Homo sapiens: one gene and its partner. The protein of the gene in region 1 interacts with the protein of each later gene in a pairwise test. Each region holds a gene or a part of one and is shown on either strand. Other genes may lie near its edges.

What was found. The genes of interacting proteins can lie anywhere in the genome.
Region 2: the proteins of TMEM108 (region 1) and ANXA7 interact in a two-hybrid assay, tested with the Homo sapiens proteins (one large-scale study listed by BioGRID and IntAct).

The regions. Positions count from the first base shown.
Region 1 is NC_000003.12:133,391,391-133,394,832, reverse strand, and holds part of TMEM108 (transmembrane protein 108 isoform 1 precursor), read right to left. Parts: intron 1-3,442. UniProt on the Homo sapiens protein: Transmembrane protein required for proper cognitive functions. Involved in the development of dentate gyrus (DG) neuron circuitry, is necessary for AMPA receptors surface expression and proper excitatory postsynaptic currents of DG granule neurons.
Region 2 is NC_000010.11:73,400,559-73,404,058, reverse strand, and holds part of ANXA7 (annexin A7), read left to right. Parts: intron 1-3,201; 5' UTR 3,202-3,202; coding exon 3,203-3,256; intron 3,257-3,500. UniProt on the Homo sapiens protein: Calcium/phospholipid-binding protein which promotes membrane fusion and is involved in exocytosis.

The DNA.
Region 1 (3,442 bases):
AGGAGTACTTACTGCTGTATGAATCATAAGGTAAGGAAGAAATGCCATTGTTGATAAAATGTCTTTTCAGAAGACAAGAATTTCCTTCAGTGTCTGGAATTAGTTCAACACCTATCTAAGGGTGGATATGGGGCCAGCCATCTAAGGAAAATAGTGGAGCACTTCAAAGAGGAGACAAAAATCCCTTTCCTCCACCATGCTTTTGGGTTTAACTGTGGAGGCTGAGCTTGGCTTGTCATTTTATAGCTTTCACAAAGCAAGTCTTCACCAAAGGCAAAACCATGTGGGTATGTTTTGCTGCATTAAAGAGAGAGTTATTCAGGAAACAACCAAAGCAAAGGAGAAGAAAAAAGAAGGGAGGAGAGAAGGAGGGAGAAAAGAAGGAAGAAGAGAAAACAGGGAGAAGGAGGAGGAGGAGGTGGGAAAAAGAAAAAAGAATGGAAGTTTCCAAGCACTTGTTGGGCATCACAATTTTGTCTGTACAGCCCTGGATCTGTGTTTTGCTGCTTGCATCAACACAGCAGTGGGGGCAGGGCAACTGAGGAACTTGCTTAGGCAAACCATTTGGCAGTCTCCAAAGTTAGCAGCTAAAGGGCAGGTGGTGAGTACATGTCCTGAGGATGTGGAACATGGTGGAATATGAACTGGGACCTTATGATTGCTCTAGAGATGGTCAGCAGTGTGTGTGTGCTTGGCTGGCTTCATCCTGGCCCTAGGCTGCCTGCATTTACCCTCATATAGTGTGAGCCCAGAGAATTGGAACAAATTGTAATATTACTCTAAATAAAGCAGAACAAGAGGAACGGCTTGCTGGGAGGGAAACAGCAAAATCCAATCCACTCTGAAGCCAAGCTGAGCTTTGTGCTGCAGGTCCTATGGCGCCCTCCTGGTCTGAAGATCACGACTGGCTGGGGCAGCCCTTTCTACCAGAGCCTCTGGATTGTGTTGGACGGCAGCCCTCGTGCTCTGTGCCAAATGACTAACTGGGATGTTCTAAAAGCAAGGGCCTTTTCTATAGTGCGTTCACGAGTATTGTCCTTTGGCTTTGGTTTTCATTTACCAATTTGCAAAGAGAATATGAGAAATTTAAAGTTCAGGGGTTCACAGCCCATACCTAAAGTAGGACCAGCCCCTTTGTCAAGTTACATATTTTTTTCCACTTACTACAACAGATCTCAGGAACACCTTTTCCATGCAAAATGTGTACAGGCCACACTAAAGGTCAATGCTGCAGTGAAGCTGGCCCCTCGTTTGTCCTCTGCTTAAAAATTTTTCTTGGGCATTTACTGTGTGTTAGGCTCTGACTGGGTGATGGGTAAATTGTGGTGAACAACATTTATAGTTCATTCACATGATAAACATTTACTAAGAACCTACCATGTGCCAGGCACTGCTCCAGGTGCTGGGAATAGAGCAGTGAGCACAACAAACAATGCTCCTGCCTCAGGCAGCAGGACAGCCAGACCACAAACCAATCAACAGAGAGACAATGATGCAATGTCAAGTGGTGAGAAGAGCTCTGAAGACAAGTAAAGTAAGGAAGAGGAAACAGAATGAGGTTGGAGATTTAATTAATACAGAGTGGTAAGGGAGGGAGGGCCTCCCAGAGGAGGTGGCATTTGAACAGAGACCTGAAGGAATTGAGGGTTCAAGGTATCCAGGAGAAAAGCATTTCAGATAGGGTGCAAGAACGAAGCTCTAAGGTGGGGGCAAGCTTCCTGTGCAGGAGGAAGAGCAAAGAGGCCACTGAAGCTGGTGTGTGATCAATGGGAAGTGTGGTGGGGGCTCAGGTGGTGGGCAGGGGCCAACTTGTGAAGGGCATGAGAATGGGAGTCTGGATTTTATTCAAAATGTAGAGAAGAGCCACTTGAAAGTGGAAGCTGTGGCGGACATGGGATCCTGCCTTGAAAAGATCATCTGGCTCTTGTGCAGAGGGCAGACTGCAGAAGGCAAGATGGTAGTGGGGAGTCCTAATTTAGAGGCCATTGCAGCACTCATGGTGCGAGGGAGGAGACTGGCTTGGATCAGGGGCAGAGGTGCAGGCAATGAGAGGTGCTGGTCCTTAGGGAGAACCAATGAAATTTTCTGACAGACTAGAAGTGGGGTGTGCAGGAAGGAAAGGCAGCTGGCAGTACCATCTACGTAATCAGGAGCTGCATGTGAGGTTTGGGTTTTGGGGTTGGGAGGGCGAAATCAAGGGTTCAATCTTGGGTGTGTTGAGTTTGAGGTGCCTATTAGACATGTGCAGCAGGTAGCTGGGTAGGTGAGTCTGGGGCCAGGGGAGACATTAAGGTTACAGGTAGAAATCTGGACTCTCTAGTGCAGAGATGGTATTTAAGTCATGGGACTAAGTAGAAAGAGAATAGAAGTGACTGGGGGCAGTGGCTCACGCCTATAATCCCAGCACTTTGGGAGGCTGAGGTGGGCGGGTCACTTGAGGTGAGGAGGTCGAGACCAGCCTGGCCAACATAGCGAAACCCTGTCTCTACTAAAAACACAAAAATTAGCCGGGCGTGGTCGCGTGTGCTTGTAGTCCCAGCTACTTGGGAGGCTGAGGCAGGAGAATCACTTGAACCTGGGAGGCAGAGGCTGCAGTGAGCTGAGATCACACCACTGCACTCCAGTCTGGGCAACGGAGTTGAGACTTCATCTCAAAAAACAAAAACAAAACAACAACCAAAAAAAAAAAAAAGAAGAGAAGTGGTGGCAGGACCGAGATGGGGCGCTCCAGTGAATAGAGGTTGGGGAAAGGACAGGGAATCAGTAATGGGAGCTGGGGGAGAGCCTGAGAAGGCAGGGCCTCTGCTGCCATGTGACAGTGCCAGTGCTGCACAGATGGAGTAGGATGAGTGCTCGGAATTGGCTGCTGGGTTTAGCGATGTGGAAGCAACTGGTTACTCAAGTAGGGGAGAGGGGTACTAAACTAATATCAGACCAGTAGCATATCACAGCTCTAAAAAGGGTCACAATGAAAAAGCACAGGGAGCTAAGACCACGTGACAGGAGAGCTGAACCCAGCCTGGCAGGTTAAGGAAGGCCTCGCTGAGGAAGTGACATTTAGACTGGGCCCTGCAGCAGGATGGGTTGGAGTCACTGAGGTGAGCAAGTGAAGGGGGTGCTGGGGAGAGCCTGAAGATGTTGTAGGAGAGGCGACAGCCCATGCACACACCTGGAGTGGGTGTGATGTAACCTGGTGCTGTGAAGGAACAAAAAGAAATCCAGTGTGGCTGGAGCTTAGCAAAAGATGGGGAGAGGGGTGTGATGTGAGGCTGGAAAGTTGGCCTGGGTCTAGGTCTACCTTGCAGGTCCTATACAAGACTTTGAACTTTAACTGGAGAGAAATGAGAAGGTTTTAAGCATGTGAGCGATGTGACCACAGTTATGTTTACAAAAGCTCACCTTGGCTGCTCTGGGGAAGGGACCCACACGGGAAGGAGGGGTG
Region 2 (3,500 bases), on another chromosome or scaffold:
GCTAATTATTTTTTTAATATTCTTGTATTATCTATCACAGTTCTCTATGATCATAGCAGTTAACACTTACTGAGGACTTACTTTATTGCAGGCACTGCTAAATGCTTTGCCTTTGTTCTTTTACTTAATTCTTACAACAACATCCTTAAGTAGGTACGTTCACGTCCCATTTTATAGATGAAGAAATGAAGGCCTAAAAAGGCTAAGTAACTTCCTTTGAGAAGCTAAGTAACTGCCCATATTCACACAGCTGGAAATCCAGGATGTTAGATGGAAAATTCTGTTGGCAGTGCTGGTGAAAATGCAAATTGGTACAGCCCCTCTGGAGGGGAATTGGGCAGTATCACATTCACCTTTACCCCTTCTCAGCAATGCCATTTCTAGGAATCTTCCCCGAAGATAGTATTGGCAAAATATACAGAGAGGTACTTGTACATGGCTGTTCATTGCAAGACTGTAATAGTTAAAAGACTAGAAATAACTCAGATGTCTGCCATTGAATAAGCCATGATACATCCACACACTGAAGTACTATGTGGTTTTTTGTTGTTGTTGTTTTGTTTTTTTTTAAGAGACACGGTCTCACTCTGTTGCCCAGGCTGGAGTACAGTGGTGCGATCCTAGCTCACTGCAGCCTTGAAGTCTTGGGCTCAAGTGATCCTCCTGCCCAGGCTTCTGAATAACTGGCACTACAGGTGCACACCACCATGCCTGGCTAATTATTTTACTTTTTGTAGAGATGAGGTCTTTCTTTGTTGCCCAGGCTGATCTCAAACTTCTGGCTGCAAGAGATTCTACTGCCTCAGCCTTCCAAAGTGCTGGGATTTACAGGCATGAGCCGCTGTGCCTGGCCTATGTTGTTGTTTTTAAAAAGGAATGAAGAGTGTGGGTGTTGGCCATAATAAAAGAAAAAAGCCAGTAAAGAAACAGAGTATGTGCCGGGAGCAGTGGCTCACGCCTATAATCCCAGCACTTTGGGAGGCCAAGGTGGGTGGATCACCAGGTCAGTAGTTCAAGACCAGCCTGGCCAAGATGGTGAAACCCCATCTCTACTAAAAATACAAAAATTAGCCAGGCACGGTGGCAGGCACCTGTAATCCCAGCTACTTGGGAGGCTGAGGCAGGAGAATCACTTGAACCCAAGGGGCAGAGGTTGCAATGAGTTGAGATTATGCCACTGTACTCCAGCCTGGGCGACAGAGTCAGACTCCGACTCAAAAAAAAAAAAAGAAACAGAGTTTTTATGTAAGAATGGAATGGGGGAATGGGGATACAAATATAGACATATCAGCTTATGTACTTAAAGATAGGTAGATAAACTGTAAAAGTAATCATATGTAGGAGATAGTAAGGGACAGGGTTAGAAGTTAACAGGTTTCTGAACATATCTTGTTTTGTAGATTTGACTTTAGAATCCAGAGAATGTTTTACATAATTACAAAACTAAATCAAAAACTTTTTAAACCTTAAAAGTCAAAAGCAAAATGAAACAAATGGACCTAACGTGTGTCAAATTGGTAGCATAACTACACAGGAATTATTTTCAAAATGTCGTTAAAACAGTAATTTGAGGCTAGGCCTGTAATCCCAGCACTTTGAGAGGCTGAAGCAGGCAGATCGCTTGAGCCCAGGAGTTCAAGACCAGCCTGGGCAATACGGTGAAACCCCATCTCTACAAAAAAAATACAAAAATTCACCAGGCATGGTGGTACGCACCTGTGGTCCCAGCTACGGGGTGGGGAGGGGGGGTGTTGAGGTGGGAGGATCACCTGAGCCCAGGAGGTCAAGGCTGCAGCAAGCTGTGATTGTGCCACTATACTCCAGCCTGGGTGACAGAGCAAGACCTTGTCTCAAAAATAAAAAGTTTATAAAAAAGAAAGCTAGGGTTTAATCCACGTATATGTGACTCCAGAATGTTAACTCTTAACCATTGTACCATTGTTTCCCATAATGTGGTTATATCACCATATGAGGGGATTTCTGTGGCACCTAGAAAGGACTTTTTATTGTAATAGCTAAGTATTTATTTTAATATTACCTTCTATTTGTGGTAAGAAAACTACTGGAAGTTTTCCATTTAAAAGTATGCTGATATTTAAAAGTATGCTGATGATAAGCATACTTTTAACATAAATGGAATTAAAAATTGGCTTAAAGAAAAATAGATCAGCCAGGTGTGGTTCTGGAGGCTGGGAAGTCCAAGAGCAAGGTGCTGGCATCTGGTGAGGACTGCCCTCTGCTTCCAAGATGAAGCCTTGGCCGGGTGAGGTGGCTTACGCCTGTAATCCCAGCACTTTGGGAGGCCAAGGTGGGTGGTTCACCTGAGGTTAGGCGTTCAAGACCGGCCTGGCCAACATGGTGAAACCCCATCTCTACTAAAAATAACAAAAAATTAGCCGAGCATGGTGGCAGACGCCTGTAATCCCAGCTACTCGGGAGGCTGAGGCAGGAGAATCACTTGGACCCGGGAGGCGGAGGTTGCAATGAGCTGAGATTGTGCCACTACACTCCAGCCTGGGCAACAGGGTGAGACTCCGTCTCCAAAAAAAAAAGAGAAAAGAAGAATAGTTCAGTATTGGTATAGTAGTGGTAGAATTGAGATGTGACAAAAATTGTATGGCATGACAAAGTTGGAACCTTTCTAGGCTGTACTGACTCCATTGGTGTGAATGATGAAATAAGCATTTAATAAGCTTTGCTTATACCCCTAATATCCACATTTTAATTTTATGCCAGACTCTTTTGAAAAGAGAAATATTTTGCATAAAACCTTGTGTGTGTGTGTGTGTGTGTGTTGTGTATGTGTGTGTATATCTGTATGTTTTCAAAGGCCTTAACCATTATAAGAAATTACAGGCTGGGCGCGGTGGCTCACACCTGTAATCCCAGCACTTTGGGAGGCTGAGGCAGGTGGATCACCAGGTTAAGAGATTGAGACAATCCTGGCCAACATGGTGAAACTCCATCTCTACAAAAAATATAAAAATTAGCTGGGCATGGTGGCGTGCACCTGTAGTCCCAGCTACTTGGGAGGCTGAGGCAGGAGAATCGCTTGAACCCGGAGGCAGAGGTTGCAGTGAGCCAAAATCACGCCACTGCACTCCAACCTGGTGACAGAGTGAGACTCCGTCTCAAAAAACAAAACAAAACAAAACAAAACAACAAAAAACTTACAGAGGACATTTTTTATTGTTGTTACAGAATGTCATACCCAGGCTATCCCCCAACAGGCTACCCACCTTTCCCTGGATATCCTGTAAGTATTGCCACTTAATACCTCACATCCTTAAAACAGGTGTTGTTTGGGACTGGCCCATGTCAGATCTTACAGATATGCTTGAGCAGGGGTCATAAATTCAGATGCTCAGAGGTACTACGTAGAAGTGAGGAAAGGCAATTGTGTGGGGGACTAGAGAGGTCTTGCTTTGTCTATTGAAAGCTGGCAGGTGCTTAGCACCAGCCCTGTGTAGCCATGGAGGGAGGCACACTCAGCGTTGCTA